2 separate regions of the Homo sapiens genome follow, and region 2 is linked to region 1. The links come from fine-mapping of genetic effects on gene expression. A gene starts in region 1. The other region holds a variant in brackets. All regions are shown on one strand. Distances are between the middles of the regions. Region 1 holds the start of NSL1 (NSL1 component of MIS12 kinetochore complex). Region 2 holds the start of FLVCR1 (FLVCR choline and heme transporter 1).

What was found.
Region 2: its variant is fine-mapped to the expression of NSL1 in monocytes after interferon gamma (Fairfax 2014, PIP 0.94).

The regions. Positions count from the first base shown.
Region 1 is chr1:212,787,512-212,799,683 of GRCh38, forward strand. NSL1 (NSL1 component of MIS12 kinetochore complex) reads right to left here and starts at 4,266. Exons shown (of 6, transcript NM_015471.4): 1 at 4,019-4,266; 2 at 48-126. The coding sequence starts at 4,252. It overlaps TATDN3 (TatD DNase domain containing 3), which reads left to right and starts at 4,383. Exons shown (of 10, transcript NM_001042552.3): 1 at 4,383-4,476; 2 at 7,584-7,616; 3 at 9,006-9,079; 4 at 9,601-9,685. The coding sequence starts at 4,411. RefSeq lists enhancers at 2,939-3,717, 4,192-4,471, 6,606-7,106, 6,985-7,054, 7,395-7,444.
Region 2 is chr1:212,851,400-212,859,399 of GRCh38, forward strand. It overlaps FLVCR1 (FLVCR choline and heme transporter 1), which reads left to right and starts at 6,876. Exons shown (of 10, transcript NM_014053.4): 1 at 6,876-7,791. The coding sequence starts at 7,054. It overlaps FLVCR1-DT (FLVCR1 divergent transcript), which reads right to left and starts at 6,739. Exons shown (of 2, transcript NR_027286.1): 1 at 6,367-6,739; 2 at 5,205-5,519. It also overlaps the pseudogene RPS28P2. RefSeq lists an enhancer at 589-1,176 and silencers at 6,977-7,036, 7,117-7,326. The variant A/T (reference allele first, on the strand shown) is at 3,488.

The DNA of each region.
Region 1 (12,172 bases):
TGCAAAAATAACCCAGAAATTAATAATGGAAGGAAAAAGTCACATACCCATAAAACAATTATCTGAAGCTTCCTGCCATGCTTGCCCATTAATGCTGATATTCTCTTGCACAGCTGATTCAAAAGTCTGCAATAAATTCACAGTAGTCAAGTCACTAAAAATAATTTTAAATACTAAATTCAAACGTTTTAGCAAAATAATACTTCCAGATTTGTGACAGAGGAAATAAAAGTAGCAGAATAGCTAATTAGTATATCTATTCTTTTCAATGAAGATTCCACTTCAATCATTGATTCTACCTACATTTTGGGTCTCATAGCCATTATGCTACCCAAGAGAAAATCTGATTTAAAATTTTGGAATATTCTTATAAACAAACAAAAAAAAGTACTCCTAGAATGAAAGAAAAAATAAAATCTAACAAATTTAGGCTCAGTTGAATCTCAGGGGTATAAGTACTATATATGCTGCTGAATGACTGTTGATGTTAACAAGAGGGAAAACATACATGCTTAAAAATAAAATTATATTTTATAAAGGGCTGTATTTTTGAGAGATGAACACTTATGTAGCGATGAAATGACATGAGATCTAAGATATGCTTTAAAATAGCAAACGTAGGCCAGGTGCAGTGGCTCACGCCTATAATCCCATCACTTTGGGAAGCCAAGGCAAGAGGATTGCTTGAGGCCAGTTCCAGACCAGCCTAGGCAACACACTGAGACAACCTTCTCTACTAAAAAATTTAAAAATTAGCCAGGCACAGTGGCACATGCCTGTAGTCCCGGCTACTTGAAAGGCTGAGGCTAGAGGATTACTTGAGCCCAGTGGTTTGAGAATACAGTGAGCTATGATTGCCACTGTACTCCAGCCTGGGAGACAGAGGGAGAAGCAACTGTAACAAAATTTTGACAACTGTTGAGTTTGGTGGTGGATATATGGGTGTCCACTGTACTAAACTAATTTTTTGTAAGGTTGAAAATGTTCATAATACATTAAAAGATAAAGAACCAAAAAACAAAAAACAAAAACAAACAAAAAATAGACAAATTGGACTTCATCAAAATTTTTTTTAAATGATGGACTAAAGGAATTCGGCAGTACACATTTCCTATTACCCAACAATTTCACTTCTAGCAATGCATCCTAAAGGACTACTCTCATAAAAACTAAAGAGAATGTGCTAGAAATGTTCATTTCAGCACTGTTTGAAATTTTTAAAATTGTGGGAAAAAACCTAAAGTCAAAATTAGAAGAGTTAAATAGACAATATTCATACCACGCAGTACCTAAAAAGGATGAAGACAAGCTCTACGTAACACTAACAAATAATAGACATGTTTGGTTTCAAAAAAGGCAGGTCAATAACAATTCATCAGCATGACATTATTAATGGAGACAAACAAACATAAACAGAGAGAAAGAGGTAAAGCCACAGAAAGGGGGTATAGAAAGTTTACTCTCCCCAAGTACTCTCCAAAATAGTACCTTATGTCCTAGAAGGAAGAGGGATGGGGAAGGGGAACTCAAAGAATTTTGCTTTATGCTACTGTTTGAATTTTTTTATGAGCATATATTTTGTACCCTTTGTATAATTAAAAATAACATAAACCAAATTACTGATAATTATGAGTTAAAGTACATATTCTACATTTCAAAGATTTCATAAAGTAAAATCCTTATTTTATTTTTTGTTTGTTTGTTTTTTGTTTTTTTTGAGATGGAGTTTCACTCTTGTCAACCAGGCTGGAGTGCAATGGCGCAATCTTGGCTCACTGCAACCTCCGCTTCCCAGGTTCAAGCGATTCTCCTGCCTCAGTCTCCCGAATAGCTGGGATTACAGGCAAGCGCCATCACACCCGGCTAATTTTTGTATTTTTAGTATAGACAGGGTTTCACCGTGTTGGCCAGGCTGGTCTGGAACTCCTGACCTCAGGTGATCCGCCCGCCTCAGCCTCCCAAAGTGCTGGGATTACAGGCGTAAGCCATCGCGCCCGGCCTATGTATGTTTTAAAATTATTTTCTAGAATTACTTTCAAGAATTGCTGAGAAAACATATTGTCTTTGTAACATTCATTGCAGACTGCTACCAATACTGTTTTTAAAGAAAATCTGCTACTTAATATGCAGTTTTAAACAGAGATACAAAATAAAGCTTCTGCTTTATTTAAAATAAAACACAAGTGAATTCCTGTGGTAGTCTAAGCCCTGTAAACTTTATCTTATAATTCACTTTATCGTCCCACTAAATAGGATATAATAGGTTAAGCCAAGTTCCTCTTTTTCTGTAAGACACCTAAATGTTTTAAATACCTTAGCATTTCCTAGAATCAGACAAATTCTAAGATTATACAACAAAAGTCTTCTCCCAAAAAACTACTAAAAACGTCCTGAGATATATCCCTATTCTTGCCTTGCTTGCAAGGAGGGAATGACGTAAGAGTCACTATATACAAAACTACATACAGAGTCACAACCCAGGAAGTGTTTCTTCATTCTTCCACTGAACCTTTTTTTTTTGAGATGGAGTCTCGCTCTGTCACCCAGGCTGGAGTGCAGTGGCGAGATCTGGGCTCACTGCAAGCTCCGCCTCCCGGGTTCACGCCATTCTCCTGCCTCAGCCTCCCGAGTAGCTGGGACTACAGGTGCCTGCCACCATGGCCGGCTAATTTTTTGTATTATTATTATTATTGTTTTAGTAGAGACGGGGTTTCACCATGTTAGCCAGGATGGTCTCGATCTCCTGACCTCGTGATCCGCCCGCCTCGGCCTCCCAAAGTGCTGGGATTACAGGCGTGAGCCACCGCGCCCGACCCCTTTTGCCTGTTTTAGAGTGAAAACATTTTCTTTACAAGACTAAAATAGGTTAAAAAAAATTGTGTTGGTTGAAAACTTTACTAAGATCATACATTTGCCTCTATACCACATTTCCCAAGCCTTTCTTAAATATTTTTGCAAAGCCCTGAAGGTGGTAGTTTTTTGGGAACACAAGAAATAAAGGGATTGTGTGCTTCCTTATAACAGGCACCAATCTACTTATATTAGCGGAAAAAATTTAAAAGCTCATAATACCGCACATTTGTGAGTTATGAATGACCACAGTGCAAACAGTAAAAATAAAGGTTAATAGGCCGGGCGAGGTGGCTCACGCCTGTAATACCAGCACTTTGGGAGCCCAAGGCGGGCGGATCACGAGGTCAGGAGATCGAGACCATGCTGGCTAACACGGTGAAACCCTGTCTCTACTAAAAACACAAAAAAATTAGCCGGGCGTGGTGGCAGGCGCCTGGAGTCCCAGCTACTCAGGAGGCTGAGGCAGGAGAATGGCGTGAACCCAGGAGGCGGAGCTTGCAGTGAGCCGAGATCGCGCCACTGCACTCCAGCCTGGGCGACAGAGCGAGACTCTGTCTCAAAAAAAAAAAATAAAATAAAATAAATAAATAAATAAAACATGCAAAAGGAAAGATCAAATGCTGCTTGGGTGAATGGCTGACTTCCAGAATTACCCTTTCCAGGAGAATTCCTCATTGTCTGCGGCTGCATTGTCCAACAGGTGAGCCACTAGCCACTTTGTAGTTACTGAGCGCTTAAATGTAACTAGTTCGAAGATGTGCCGTAAATGCAGCACACCAGATTTGAAAAGCTTAGTACGAACAAAAGAATGTAAAATATCTCATTCATTTGATATTATTACATGTTAAAATACCTTGGATTTATTGGGTTAAACAAAATGTCTTATTTCCATTAACTTCACCTATTTCTTACTTTTAGTTTAAAACTACATAAAGATTAGCTTGCCTTGTATTTTCACTGGACAGCGCTGGTCTAAGTAATTAATAAGACCCAGCTGACATTAGCATCTATTTCTTTCTCCTCTAGCGTTTCTCGAACTGGTTCTACAGTAGCCTGGGGCACCGTTAATTCTGCCAAGGCCTGGCGTGGGATCTTTCTGAATCCTAAGATCCTGGGTGTTGGGTAAGAGGATGATGAGTAAAGAACTGGCTAACTGGTCCCGTACCCACTGCGCATCTCGCAGAGCGGGCTCCCGAATCTCCTCCGGCAGAGCGTCCCCGAGCTTTTGCACGAAGCGGCCGCACAGTTGTAGCATTTCGGTCACAGCCCGCTTCGAGGTGCAGCGCACCCGAAAGTCTTCTCGGGGAGTGGCGGAGACCAAGGCCTGGCTCTCTGTGCCAGCCGCGAGCTCCTTGTCCCATGGAGGGTCAAGGACCACCAACTCAGGAGACCCCGCCATTTTTCGTCGGAACTGTGGGCGGGGCACTCTGGGAGCGGAAAAGCGGGTTCACACTGGTGTAACCAGCATGCATCCGGCTGGAAACTCAGGACGCTGCAGCTGAAACGTTCCGGCTCCGGCTCTGCTGGCCGGTCTAAAGCGGCAGCCGCCGGGGCGCAATGCGAGCGGCTGGCGTAGGCTTGGTGGACTGTCACTGCCACCTCTCCGCCCCGGACTTTGACCGCGTATGTGAGGGCGATACGGGACCAGAGGGAGCAGGGAGGCCCCCGTCCTTTCCCCTCGTGTTATCTTTGCTCTCCTCCCTTGGGACGAAACCCCATATCCCCCGCCCAGACCCTTGTTTATGGCCATATGACCTTGCCCCTCATTTCCCTATTCCCTATTTAACCTCAGACATACCGATTTTTTTTTCCTGATTCAGTAGCGGTAAGCTATCTCCACAAGGCTTTTGTTTGCTCTTCTGAGTTCCTGGAATCGTTCCCTCACTCCCCTTGGCTGGCCTGTTTTTCCCCTCGGGGCTCTCACCTCCTGGCTGAGATGCCACTCTTTGTGGGAAGCGGTCCTCGAAACGCGTTCAAATCGGGGAGAGGTCGGGCGCGGGCTCACGCCCGTAATCCCAGCACTTTGGGAGGCCGAGGCGGGCGCTGCGCATCTCCTGTGTCCAGGAGATCGTGACCAGCCTGGGCAACATGGTGAAACCTCGTCCCTACAAAAAAAAAAAAAAAGCCGGTGATTGTGGCGTTTGCCTGTGGTCCCAGCTACTCGGGAGGCTGAGGTGGGAGAATCGCTGGAGCCCAGGAGGTGGAGGTTGCAGTGAGCTGACATCAAGCCACTGCACTCCAGCCTGGGTAACAGTGAGACCCTGTCTCAAAAAAAAAAAAAAAAAAAAATTCACAAATGGGGGAGAGAGGCAAACAAACAAACAAAAATACATGGCCGAGTGTGGTTGCTCACACTTGTAATCCTAGCACTATGAGAGGCCGAAGTGGGTGGATCGCTTGAGCCCAGGAGTTTGAGACCAGCCTGGGCAATGTGGTGAGACCCCGTCTCAATTAAAATAATAATACACACGTAAAATCAGTTACAAACTGTTTTACCCATTACGTGGGAAACTAGAGACTAATAATAGAGGATTAAGGGGGGTTTTATTTCAGGGGGAAATCCTCCCAGGAGCTGACACTTAAGGCTGAAAAGACAAGGAGCCACCCAAGCAAGGGGGTGAGTGTATGCTGGTTAGGGAAACAGATAGGTTGCAGGCCCCCAGACAAGCTAGAATTTGGCACATTTCAGTTGCCAAAAAGCTAAGTGGAGCCTGATGAGCTAGAAAGAGAAAGGCATGAAACAAAACTGGGGAGGTTTGCAGGGGATAGATGAGGTGGGTCAGTAAGGAATTTGGATTGCATTTGAAGCACAATGCAGATTCATTAAAGGGCTTTTTTAAAATTTATTTTCATTTTTTTATTTTTTTAGATTGAGTCTGGCTGTGTCCCTCAGGCTGAAATGCAATAGCATGATCTCAGGTCATTGCAACCTCCACCTCCTGGGCTCAAAAAATTCTCCTGTCTCAGCCTCCCAAGTAGCTGGGATCACAGGTGTGTCCCACCACGCCTGGCTAATTTTTTGTATTTTTAATAGAGACAGAGTTTTGCCATGTTGTCCAGGCTGGTCTTGAACTTCTGGCCTCAAGTGATCAACCCTCCTTGGCCTCCCAAAGTCCTGGGATTACACAAAAATGGATAGGCATGATGCTATCCATTTTAACACCATTTTGCTGCTGTATGGCAAATGGGTGGAGGAGAAGAGTGGAAGCTACAAGACTAGTTAGGAGGCTTTTGCAGTATATAGGCAAGAGATGTTGGCTGTTGGTACTATGATGATAGCAGGTGAGTTTGAGATGAATACATGGATTCAAGATACATTTTAGAGAGAGAATCCACAGTAAGTACTGAAGAATTGGATGTGGATAGCAAGGGAAAGGGAGGAGTCAAGGATGACTCAGATTATTAGCTTGTGCTATAGGGAAGATGGTGGTGCTGGTTTACTGAGATAAGGGAAGACCAAGGTCTGAGGTGGAGGTGGGGAGGTCAGCAGAAGGAATAGGTTTGTGGGGAGAAAATAAAGATTTATGTTTGGGGCATATTGGGAAACCTAATCCCATCCAAATGAAGATGTCATAATTTTTAAACATGAGTCATGGGCTCAGGAGAGAATTACAAGCTAAAGATAAAAATTGGGGGCCGGGCGCAGTGGCTCATGCCTGTAATCTCAGCACTTTGGGAGGCCGAGGTGGGCAGATCATAAGGTTAGGAGATCGAGACCATCCTGGCTAACATGGTGAAACCCTGTCGCTACTAAAAGTACAAAAAAATTAGCTGGGCATGGCAGCATGTGCCTGTAGTCCCAGCTACTTGGGAGGCTGAGGCAGGAGAATGGTGTGAACCCGGGAGGCGGAGCTTGCAGTGAGCCGAGATCGTGACACTGCACTCCAGCCTGGGTGACAGAGCGAGACTCCATCTCAAAAAAAAAAAAAAAAATTGGGGACTCAGGCTGGGTTCGATGGCTCACACCTGTAGTCCCAGCACTTTGGGAGGCCAAGGTGGGTGGGTCACCTGAGATCAGGAGTTAAAGACCAGCTTGGCCAACATGGTGAAACACCATCTCTACTAAAAATACAAAATTTAGCTGAGTGTGGTGGCGGTCACCTGTAATCCCAGCTACTCTGGAGGCTGAAGCAGGAGAATCACTTGAACCCGGGTGGCAGAGGTGGCAATGAGCCGAGATCGCACCATTGCACTACAGCTGGGAGACAAGAGTGAAACTTCATCTCAAAAAAAAGAAAAAAAATGGGGGCCTCAGCATAATGATGATAAAACCATGAGAGGAAGTGAAATCACTCAAGGCAAGTGCAGAGAGAGGAGCAGATGTTCTTGAAGTCTGAAAGAGGAAGGGGAGCTAGTCAAGGAGACTGACAAGTAGCCACCAATGAGAGAGTGGTATTGCAGAAGTGAAGGGTGGAAAGCATTTCAAGAAGGAAGGAGTAAGCAAGTGAGGGATTCCGAATGCTGCTGAGGAGTAGAGTAAGATGAGGACAGAGAAATACCCTGTATATTTGACAATAGAGGCTTCTGTTTTAGTGCTGGGAACAGTAGCCAGACTTTACTGATAGTAAGAGTAAACAGGAAGTGGGTCAGTGTAGGCTCTTTGTTTTCCACCACTCCATTAGTTGCTATCATTGTTATTTTTTGTGATGCCACAACTACATTGACATATACAGTCCAAGATTAGCTGCTTATTCATCTAAAATAATGGTGATTTCTTATGCTTGTTTTAGGATTTGGATGATGTGTTGGAGAAAGCCAAGAAGGTAAGTCAATATTTGTAATTGCTCTTTTGGTTTTTTATTTTAACTATCATTTCAAGCCAAAACAGCTTGAAATTTAGATATACTACCTTGATGTTTCAGTAGTTTATAGTAAGTAGCATTTTTTATTTTTATTATTTTATTTATTTATTTATTTATTTATTGAGACAGAGTCTCGCTCTGTCGCCCAGGCTGGAGTGCAGTCGTGTGATCTTAGCTCACTGCAACCTCTGCCTCCAAGGTTCAAGTGATTCTCCTGCCTCAGCCTCCTGAGTAGCTGGGACTATAGGCACACGTCACTGCACCCAGATAATTTTTGTATTTTTAGTAGAGACAGGGTTTCACCATGTTGGCCAGGCTGGTCTTGAACTCCTGACCTGAGGTGATCTGCCCACCTCGACCTCCCAAAGTGCTGAGATTGCAGGCGTGACCCACTACGACCAGCCAATTTTTATTATTTATAATTAAAATAGAGACAAGATCTGACTATATTGCCCAGGCTGGTGTCAAACTTCTGAGCTCAAGCAATCTACCCACCTTGGGCTCCCAAAATGCTGGGATTATAGGCATGCGGCACTGCTCCCAGCCTAAGTAGCATTTATTAAGTGTTTGCTACATGCCAGGTAGTGAGCTAAGGCCTTTCTCGACTTTACCTCATTCAATGTTTCACAATAGCCTTCTGAGGAAATTACTAATTTATAGCCAATCATTCCCCATTTTTATAGATGAGGAATCTAAGGCCTAGAGATGAGTAACTGGTCCAAAGACACATGCTAGTGAACTGATAGAGACAAGTTAGTCTGAATTCAAAACATGTTCCTATAGCTACCATGCTCAACAGCCCTATGGAACAAATTGGTCCATCTTTCAGTTTTTAAATTCATGTGGTTCTGGAGATCTGGGATATATTATTAAAGTTTTCTGAGATGTTTTGATTTGCTTAGAAAAATTATTTTTTTGGAAGTGTTTATGAAATTCATTGTAACTAGCATTTTGTGGCCATCTCAAAAAATGATACAGCCAGAAATGGTTGTAGTGCATTTTTACATACAGGTAACTTTCACTGTGGCAGCTTAATTAGGAATGTGGGCTTTGGACATATATAGACCTGATGACCTTGGGCAAGTTATTCGACATCCAAAACTCTGTCTCCTGATCTATACAGTAGACTATAGCCTACTTTATAGGTTTCTGTAAATTAAATGAGGCAATATTTATATTCACTGAACATAAGGTCTGAAACATAGTAAATACTCAATGATAGCCCTTCTGATTGTATTGATGAAGCATGGCTGAACAAGGATAACTAAAATGCAGAGAAAACTTTAAAATTTTCTATAATTTATATTAAATGTATATTGTTTGTAACTTTATTCTTTTTTTTTTTTTCAGGCCAATGTTGTGGCCCTTGTGGCAGTTGCCGAACATTCAGGAGAATTTGAAAAGATTATGCAACTTTCAGAAAGGTGCTACTTTTAATTAAGATTTTAAAGGGTTGCTAATAAGAACACAGTTATGACATCCAGTTTATAATATCAAAGATCCATTTTTAAAGAGAATAAAGAGGAAAAAGCATTTTAACATAGCCCTAAAGAGATTATTTTCTACTTATTCCTTTTTTTTTTCTTTGAGAGATGGAGTCTTGCTCTGTCACCCAAGCTGGAGTGCAGTGGCGCAATGTTGGCTCACTGCAACCTCTGCCTCCTGGTTTCAAGCAATTCTCTGCCTCAGCCTCCCAAGTAGCTGGGTCTAAAGCATGCACCACCAGGCCTGGCTAATTTTTATATTTTTTGTAGATACAGGATTTCACCATGTTGGCCAGGCTGGTCTCAAACTCCTGGCCTTAAGTGATCCACCTGGTTCAGCCTCCCAAAGTGCTGGAATTACAGACATAAGCCACCATGCCCGACCTCTACTTATTCTTTAGAATACGTTGTAATCTACTAGTCTACTGTTCCTGCTTTCTCAGTTGGTTCTACATTTTTAGGTATAATGGGTTTGTCCTGCCATGCTTGGGTGTTCATCCAGTTCAAGGACTTCCACCAGAAGACCAAAGAAGTGTCACACTAAAGGTAACAGTCATACAAAACAGGAACCATTAAAAACAAACAAACGAAAGAATTATTTGACTCAGTAATCCTCCTCTTTCTAATTTATATTCTCAGGAAATAATCCAAAAGAAGGAAACATTACCTTCTTTAACAAAGATGTTTGTTGCAACATTATTCGTAATAGAGAAAAAGTAGAAACAGCCTAGAGGTTCAGAAACAAAGGAATCATTAGTTAAGTTGTAGAGTGTTAAATATAATGCATTTATAGAAAATGAGGATTATAAAGTATTATAGCACATGGAAAATACTTACTGTATAATATAGGGAGAAAAGCAGGATACCAAATAGCATATTCACTATGAGTGACATCTACATAAGCATATATTCATAAGGAAAAGACTGCAGAGAAAACACAGAAATGATAGTAATTGTGATGATCTGTTAGAATTATCTGTAACTTTTTTCACATTTTTTTGGTACTGTAGTCATGTTGCTTTGGCAAAAAAGTGATAGAATATCTAGAAAAAGAAAGATACAAATTCAGAGGTGCCATATACTATTAGGGAACAGATTAGTTCAAGTAAGTAGTATTATCTTTGAACATAGAACCATTGTTACAGGATTGCTCTCCAGCTATTAAATTGCACTGATTTTGTACCCTCTCTAAAAACATCCTACCCGCACTGACTCACGATAGTTGGTATGTCTTATATTTCACACTTGTCTCCTGACTCAGCATCAGGAAGATCCACAGTTTCATGAGTGTTTTATTGCATAATGGGTTTGATAGCCCCATTTCAAAGAAGTAATGACTTTTTGTTACCTATGAATAAATTAAGATATAGTGCCATTTAAAAAATAATAATGTAGGCTGGACACAGTGGCTCGTGCCTGTAATCCCAGCACTTTGGTAGGCTGAGGTGGGTGGATCATGAGGTCAGGAGATTGAGACCTTCCTGGCTAACATGGTGAAACCCTGTCTGTACTAAAAATACAAAAACTTATCCAGGTGTGGTGGCGTGCACCTGTAGTCCCAGCTACTCGGGAGACTAAGGTGGGAGAATCGTTTGAACCCAGGAGGCGAAGATTGTAGTAAGCTGAGATTGCTCCAGTGCACTCCAGCCTGGGTGACAGAGTGAGACTCCATCTCAAAAAAAAAATAATAATAATAATGTATCTCTCTTCCTATATTAAGATACCTTAGGTAGCTAGCTCTACTTATTTCAAAATAAAATTCATGACCAGGCATGGTGGCTCACACCTGTAATCCTAACACTTTGGGAGGCCGAGATGGGAGGACCACTTGAGCTCAGGAGTTCAAGACCAGCCTGGGCAACATGGACGCTATCTCTCAAAAACTCAAAAAAAAAAAAAAAAAAAAAAGAAAAGAAAATTCATTCATTTCAGGTAAAAATGCTTATCCTGTAGCTATCCTGAATTGTTAAGTATGATAAAATTAGCTACATTGCCAATCACAATTCTACAAATGTGGAATCATAGCAAGGCAGCACTTCTTTCATTTATGTGGGGATTTATACTAATAGACATTCATTTAGTTAGGTAGTCAACCAGTGTGTACTGAGCACCTGCTACATGCCAGGCACTGCTGTCAGCACTGCAGACCCAATAATGAGTAAGATCCTGCTCATGGAAGCTAGATTCTAGATGGCCCAGACAGACAGTCAACAATTACATGAGCAGGAAAACTTTCGATAGCACTAAGTGCTTTGAAGACAGTAAAACAAGATTATATAGTAGGTGTTGTGAATGCTGATTGTTAGATGATATCATCAAGGAAGGACTCTGGTAGTGACAATTGAGCTGCAACCTGAATGCTACAAAGGAACTGGCCATGCAAAGAGAGGATCAGGGTGTTATGTGCAAAGGAAACAGCAAAGCACAAAGGTCCCAAGGTAGGAATAAGCTCAGTGTAGTCAAGAAACAGAAAGAGGGCTCATATGGCTAGAGAAAGAGAGGAAGTGATAGTGATGGGGTAAGAGGGATGGGTGGAGATCTCATACAGGACCTTGTTGGATTTTAGTTTACATGCAGTGGAGGGTTTAATGTGAGAAGTACCAAGACGTAATTTATGTTTTAAAAAGATCCTCTTGGCTCTGGCCAAAATGAGTTTGGTGAAGAAAAAAAACCCCTTGGCTAAGGTATGAAGAGTGAGTTTTGAAGAGGGTAAAAAATGAAAAGGGGAAAAAGTTAGAAGGCTACAAATGATGCTGGATGGGACCAGAGTACTAGCATTGGAGGTAGAGAAATGGGTGGATTTGGCATATATTTGGCATTAATATAGAATTGATTGGACTGGTTAACTTACCAAAGTAATTAATATGCCAACAGTATGATAGGTACTTCTTTTTTTTTTTTTTTTGAGATAGAATCTTGCTCTGTCACCCAGGCTGCAGTGCAGTGGCGCCATCTCGGCTCACTGCAGCCTCCGCCTCCCTGGTTCAAGTGATTCTCGTGCCTCAGCCTCCTGAGTAGCTGGGATTACAGGCA
Region 2 (8,000 bases), 62 kb after region 1:
TACACACTGCTTTGAATGCGTCCCAGAGATTCTGGTATGTTGTGTCTTTGTCCTTTGTAGGGACATGGATGAAACTGGAAACCATCATTCTCAGTAAACTATCGCAAGAACAAAAAACCAAACACCGCATATTCTCACTCATAGGTGGGAATTGAACAATGAGATCACATGGACACAGGAAGGGGAATATCACACTCTGGGGACTGTGGTGGGGTGGGGGGAGGGGGGAGGGATAGCATTGGGAGATATAACTAATGCTAGATGACGAGTTAGTGGGTGCAGCGCACCAGCATGGCACATGTATACATATGTAACTAACCTGCACAATGTGCACATGTACCCTAAAACTTAAAGTATAATAAAAAAAAAAAAGAAAAGTAAAAATTGGAGTAAAAAAAAAAAAAAAAAAAAAAAAGAAGATACCTGTGAGTGAGACCTCTCCCTTCCAAATCGCCATTCGAATATTAATATAGTAAAATATTAGTGCCATTCAGATAGTATTAGGGAGGGTATGGAGTTTATTTCAGGACCAATTGGGAATATCAAGTAGTATAAAACCATTCAGATCTGGGAAAACCAACTTTATTTTAGTGTAAGACATCTGCCAATTTTATGTATTTTGTCATCCTTTTTAATACTGTCTTTGAATGATTTTTTTGGTATGAAAATAAATTTTTAAAGTGAAATAAAAAAAAGAAAATACAGTTTAGTTCAACATAGTTTATGTATATCTGCTTTCACTACATCTTAAGAGATTCAGAAAGTTCTTGTTAATAATAAGGCCCAGCATGGAACTAGGGTGTACTTTGCATTTGTATAACCCAGGTGGAAGAGCATATGTAGGCTAAAGAAACAAACAAAAAACCGATAAAAGAACAATAGGGCCTAGCCAGGGTGAAGGTACCTTAAGGCAACAAGAGAGGGAGGAAGGGGCTTCCGAGAAGGAGGGAAGAAAAAAAACTTCAGAAATAAGTGTTAGAGGGCTGTTGCAGTGGCTCACTAATCCCAGCACTTTGGGAGGGTGAGGTGGACAGATCACTTGAAGTCAGGAGTTCAAGACCAGCCTGGCCAACATGGCGAAACCCCATCTCTACAAAAAACACAAAAATTTGCCGGGCATGGTTGCATGCGCCTGTAATCCCAGCTATTTGGGAGGCTGAAGTGGGAGGTTGAATCTGTTTAGTAAATTGGGGGCTTAGAATATTTCATTTTTGGTTTACAGGGGCTTGAGTTCTCCTTGTGGCCTGTCTCCATATGGCATTTCCTCTAGCTACAGTTTTCAGGAGCTATTTGGTCTCTCAACTCTAAGCATACAAAACCCTTAAGACTCCTCTGTAGTAGATGCTCTGAACAAGCCAGGGCTGGGAAGGAGGTCTATTTATTTTTTGACTCAATTCTTTCATCAGAGTTTCAGTAAGTGAGTTACAAATTAGTGAATCAAGAGGAAACATGTGAAGCAGTTGCACAGTTTTTTCAGAGTAAATCTGGAAATGAAGATATTAGTTGCTACAGGTGGGAGGGGTGAGCAGAGGCAGATTTACCATGAAGTTAATATGAGGGTCTCTGAAGGCTTGTATCTCTCTCTCTCTCTTTTTTTTTTTTGACAAGGCCTCACTCTGTTGCCTAGGCTGGAGTGGCGTGATCTCAGCCCATTGCAGCCTTGACCTCCTGGGCTCAAGCGATCTTCCCACCTCAGCCTCTCAGGTAGCTGGGACTACAGGCATGCACCAGGCCCAGCTAAATACTGTATTTTTTTGGTAGAGAAGGGGTTTCGCCATGTTACCCAGGCTGGTCTTGAACCCAGGCTCGCCATTGCACTCCAGACTGGGCAACAAGAGCGAGACTCCATCTCAAAAAATAAATAAAAAAATAAATAAAAAGATCTAGAAAAGTGACAGAATAATTTGTTCCCATCTCACCAGTTTGGTTTCGCTGTACTGATGACCTCAACTGGCATCATGGACCGAGAAGAAACAAGACAAAAACACAGGAGAAAAAATCCTGGGACTCTTTTTTTTTTTTTTTTTTCAGGAATAAATATATACAAATAAAATGTCTCAATGGAGGGAAGAATACATGTGGGAGGATTCTGATTTCCAACCTTCTCCTCTACTCCTCCATTTCCAACTTGATCTTTTCACAAAATAGAACCATATAGCCTCTGCTGATCAGGTGGACAGAGCCTGATGCTAGTAGGAGTAAACTGAAGGCAAGGTTGCCCAAATCTACCCACCTCCCCATGAAACATCATGGATTGCACATCCAATAGCATTGTTCTGGTTTGCATCTTAACCTCTGAGGCTCGTAAACTGTGGCAAACCTTTGTTCAGGGACAGCTACATCACTCCTATTAGCATCTTGGACCTTGGCTCCTGGATGCTGTCCAGATCTCATATTGCTGAAGTGTTACTTATTCAAATCTCTCTGACTTGGCATTCCACACCCATAAAGTAGCTCAATCTCATCTTGACTCCCAGCCAAACGATGCTCCCAGTAGTATCTTTTTTGACAGAGATTAAGGTTCATTTTACGTTATACATCCAAACATTTGATATAAATAATGACTCATGTTTAAACTGGTTAATAAATATCTACCACTGAAGCCAGAGAAAGAAGACAAGATTAAGAAATTAGAATGGTGGCCGGGCACGGTGGCTCATGCCTGTAACCCCAGCACTTTGGGAGGCTGAGGTAGGTGGATCACCTGAGGTCAGGAGTTCGAGACCAGCCTGACCGACATGGAGAAACCCTGTCTCTACTAAAAATACAAAAATTACCCGGGTGTGGGCACCTGTAATCTCAGTTACTTGGGAGGCTGAGGCAGGAGAATCACTTGAACCCGGGAGGCAGAAGTTGCAGTCAGCTGAGATTTCATCATTGCACTCCAGCCTGGACTCCAAGGGCAAAGCTCTGTGTCAAAAAAAGAAAAAGGAAAAGAGAAAGAAATAGATTTCACTCCCTCCTTCCCTTCCTTCTGGAAGTTTGCAAGACTTTTTTTGTTTTTGTTTTTGTTTTTGTTTTTTTCTGAGACGGAGTCTCGCTCTATCGCCCAGGCTGGAGTGCAGTGGCGCGATCTCGGCTCACTGCAAGCTCCACCTCCTGGGTTTACGCTATTCTCCTGCCTCAGCCTCTCGAGTAGCTGGGACTACAGGCGCCCACCACCATGCCCGGCTAATATTTTGTATTTTTAGTAGAGATGGGCTTCACCGTGTTAGCCAGGATGGTCTTGATCTCCTGACCTCGTGATCCACCCGCCTCGGCCTCCTAAAGTGCTGGGATTACAGGCGTAAGCCACTGCACCTGGCCAAGATTTTTTTTTTTTAAGAAACAGATTTCACGTGGTGGTGGGCGCCTTAATCCCAGCTACTTGAGAGGCTGAGGAGGGAGAATCGCTTGAACCCCGGAAACAGAGGTTGCAGTGAGCCGAGATCGCATCACTGCACTCCAGCCTGGGTGACAAGAGCGAAACTCCGTCTCAAAAAAAAAA[A/T]AAAAATAATAATAATAATTTAAAAAAAGATTTCCTTCCTTCTCTCCTCCCTCCTTTTTTCCTTCCTTCCTTTCTTTTTCTCTCTTTCTTTCTTTCTCTCTCTCTTCTTTCTTTGTCTCTTTCCTTTCTTTTCTTTCTAATTTGGCACACAAACACTTTATTTAAATGCATATCTCAATTCCTGTGCGGCTGGCAAATAAAATAAAGGAGCAGATCATGGCACAGCATTCTCATGGACCAAGTGGTCGAACCCAACATCCAAGACCCAGTGAGCAGCCAAGCTCAGTGCAACCTCCAGGCCTCTCGCTCTGACTCCAACAGGGTGAGCACATAGCCCTTGCGCATGGGGTCTTTTACACTGTGGATGATGGAGTGGCTTGTGTCTTCCATAAATTCCCGCATGCACTGTCCCTGAGAGCTGGTTCTGCCCAGGACCTTGGTGACCCTGGCTAGCTAGATAGGCTGCACATGGCTGGTGTCTGTGATGGCGATGCAGCAGCAGTTGGGCAGAGAGAAGAAATAGATTTCTTTACAAAGCAAGTAATTATTTAAAATATTCACGGTAATTCAGTATTCATTAGCTGTACTCAGTAAATATTTATTGAACAGCTACTATGTGCTAGGTACTCGCACAAAGTACACTGGTTACAAATTCTTGAAAAATAGTAGCGGTAGCAAAAAGCAACAAAACTTTCAGCCCTGCCCTTATGGAACTCACATTCTAGTGGGCAGGGAGAAAATAACCAGAAAAAGGCCCAGCACAATGGCTCATGCCTGTAATCCTAGCACTTTGGGAGGCCGAAGTGAGCTGATCAGTTGAGACCAGTCTGAGCAATGTGGCAAAACCCCATCTCTACAAAAAATACAAAAAGTACTCAGGCTTGGTGGTCAGCCGAGAGAGAGAGAGAGAAGGAAAGAAAGAGAGAGAGAAAGAAAGAAAAGAAAGAAAGAGGCCAGGCTCGGTGGCTCAGGCCTGTAATCCCAGCACTTTGCGAGGCTGAGGCGGGCGGATCACGAGGTCAGGAGTTCAAGACCAGCCTGGCCAATATGGTGAAACCCTGTCTCCACTAAAGAAAAATACAAAAATTAGCCAGGCATGATGGCGCGGGCCTGTAGTTCCAGTTACTCGGGAGGCTGAGGCAGAAGAATCGCTTGAACCTGGGAGGTGGAGGTTGCAGTGAGCCGAGATCGCGCCACTGCACTCCAGCCTGGGTGACAGAGCAAGACTGTCAAAAAAAAAAAGAAAGAAAGAAAATAACCAGAAAAAAAAAGTAAAAATATAGGACATTTTAGGTGAAGGTAAGCACTAGGAAAGAAAGAAAAAAAAAAGCAGGGAAGGGATGTTGGCCGGGGCGGGCGGAGGGGGGGATTTATACAGTTTGGCCAAGGAAGACATTATAATAATGCACTTATTCCTTAGTTTAGAACATGTAGCATTTCACCTGTACCGAGAGATGCCTGATATATTTCATACATGACCAAAATAATAATGTAAGAGGCAATAAAAAAGTGCAGGGTTTTAGGGTTCTAGATATCAGCACATTTTAAGATTAAATGCATGGTAAGAACTTTTGTACTATATACACCTAGTTTGAACTTAAATTTAATAACAAACTCTTTGGAGTCTCTCTCTCTCTCTTTTTTTTTTTTTCCCAAACATAGCTTCCCAAGGAGCAGAAGGGCTGAATTTTCTCTAGTTCCAGGAAGACCGCAAGGCTACTGTGCTCTGGATGTCTCGTTTTTATTTTTTTATTTTTTTATTCTCCAGATCTCAAGACGGTGTCTGGCACATACCATTCAATACAAGTTTGGTACCTGGAACCCACTGAATATGCATGTCCAGTAACTATTAACTACATGTGTTGGTGCAAGGGAGAAGGTCGAGCAACCGGATCTGCTCCATCATAGCCCGTCTCAGTCGCTTCATTCAAGTCAGCGGGGTGAGGTTGAGGGGATTCCAACTTCACAAGGGCAGATTTCTCATGGACTCTCTTTCTCTGGTTGTACTGGAACACTTTCTGGCGTTATTCCTCTGCTGGGACAGCATGAACTTATGAAACGTGGTCCTGTCTGCCCTAAAGCCAGGGTCTCACCGACAAGGACAGCGATGCTGGGGCGAGAAATAAAGTTCGTCCTGGGCCTGCGTACGGTACAGCGCCCTTGGGAAGCCCTTGTGGAGTTAAGGGTGATGCCCACTTCTTTGTCTCCCTCATTCTGTTTCGGTGGCTCTCTCGTTCCCAGTTCCAAGCTGCCCACTTGTTAGAGGAGCCACTGCTTACCAGGCATCTGGTTTAATAAAACATGGCTAGAGCGACTGCATGTTAAAGTGAGTAACTAGGCACTCACAAGGCACCTATAAGGTTAATGCTAAAGGTCTGAAAATAGCCGCATTCTAAGCTGACCAACAATTATAATTACACAATATTTATGGCCATACAGGACATCTCCCACCAAGTCTGCGGAATTGTCCAGATGTCCTGAGTTTTTTTTTTTTTTTTAGACAAGGTCTCACTTTGTCGCCCAGGCTAGGCTGGAGGGCAGTGTGGTGCGATCTCAGCTCACTGCAACCTCCGCCTCCCAGGTTCAAGTAGTTCTCCTGCCTCAGCCTCCTGAGTAGCTGGGACTACAGGCATGCACCACCACGCCTGGCTACTGGCTTTTTTTTTTTTTTTTTTTTTTTTAAATAGATGGCATCTCAGTATGTTGCCCAGGCTGGTCTCGAACTCCTGGGCTCAAGGGAGACTCCTGTCCGGCCTCCCACAGTGCTGGGATTACAGACGTGGCCACCGAGCCCGGCCCAGCCCTCTACTCAGAGATAACGTCAATGCGCAGGCTTAGGTTGAAGGATTAATGGTCATTAGTGCACCAACAGCCCCTACCTTTAGTGGGCACATCAGCACATTCCACGATTAATCACAGCTCCTCACAGCTGCCTCTAAGTAGTGACACTACCGAAGGACGGGAGTTCCTCCTCCTGCAGTCTGAGGACTTGCACTCTCTAACGGAGTAGATTCCAATAAACTTGCTTCCTTCACTGCGCTCTGTGACTCGCCTCCAATTCTTCCCTGAAGTAGACCCAAGAACCCTCTCTTGGGGTCTGGATCGAGACCCCTTTTTCCAGCAACACAACCCGCGGGGCCGCCTCCCGCCCACCCTCAGGTGCAGGAGACCCCGGGCCATGCATCCTTCCGGGCAGGAAAATGTCAGCCAGCGCTCGCCGGCCGCTTTCCTCCCCCGCCTCCCGAAGTTCTCGCCCGGTAGCTCCCCGACTGGCTCTCGCGCCGGACAAAGGCGCACGCTGATTGGCCGGAGGGCCGTAGTCATGCAGGACGCGCGACTCTAGGGGCGGGACCAGACAAGGGGTGACTGCCGCGCGGCGCGGGGGAGGAGACCTTCATCTGTTCACGCGGTAGCGCGGATTGCGGTTCGCGGCGCGCGCCACCGGGGAAGGAGCGGTGGGCCGAGGGGTTGGAGGTGGGGCCCCAGGAGGACCTCGGGCTGTGGGCCGGGAGAGCGGAGTCGGGGAGTGGGGCGGGGGAGCGAGGTGGCGCCGGGGAGCCTGGGATATGGCGCGGCCAGACGATGAGGAGGGGGCGGCGGTGGCGCCCGGACACCCGCTCGCGAAAGGATACCTCCCGTTGCCGAGGGGCGCGCCCGTTGGGAAGGAGAGCGTGGAGCTGCAGAACGGGCCCAAAGCGGGCACCTTCCCGGTGAATGGGGCCCCCCGGGACAGCCTCGCTGCCGCCTCGGGAGTTCTGGGCGGGCCTCAGACTCCACTGGCCCCAGAAGAGGAGACCCAGGCCCGGCTGCTGCCTGCGGGCGCGGGAGCTGAGACCCCGGGGGCCGAGAGCAGCCCGCTGCCCCTTACGGCGCTCTCCCCGCGGCGCTTCGTGGTGCTCCTGATCTTCAGCCTGTACTCGCTGGTCAACGCCTTTCAGTGGATCCAGTACAGCATCATTAGCAACGTCTTCGAGGGCTTCTACGGTGTCACCTTGCTGCACATCGACTGGCTGTCCATGGTGTACATGCTGGCCTACGTGCCCCTCATCTTCCCGGCCACCTGGCTGCTGGACACCAGAGGCCTGCGGCTCACCGCCCTGCTGGGCTCCGGCCTCAACTGCCTGGGTGCCTGGATCAAGTGCGGCAGTGTGCAGCAGCATCTCTTCTGGGTCACCATGTTGGGCCAGTGCTTGTGCTCGGTGGCCCAGGTGTTCATCCTGGGCTTGCCCTCCCGCATCGCCTCAGTGTGGTTTGGGCCCAAAGAGGTGTCCACAGCTTGTGCCACCGCCGTGCTGGGCAATCAGGTAAGTACTGGAGTGGTAGGTGAAAGTCAGATCCTTAAAAGACCGGAAAAAGTCATAGGCCGTGAGAACTATGGCCTGTATGGATGAACTGCCCCAGGAGGTATTTGTCTATAAAAGAGGAGATGAAGCCGTTGAATAGGAGGCCGTCTTGGATTGAAGTGGGCTATAAATTTCTTTGTAAGGACAAAATTTTCCAAACGACCTTGTCA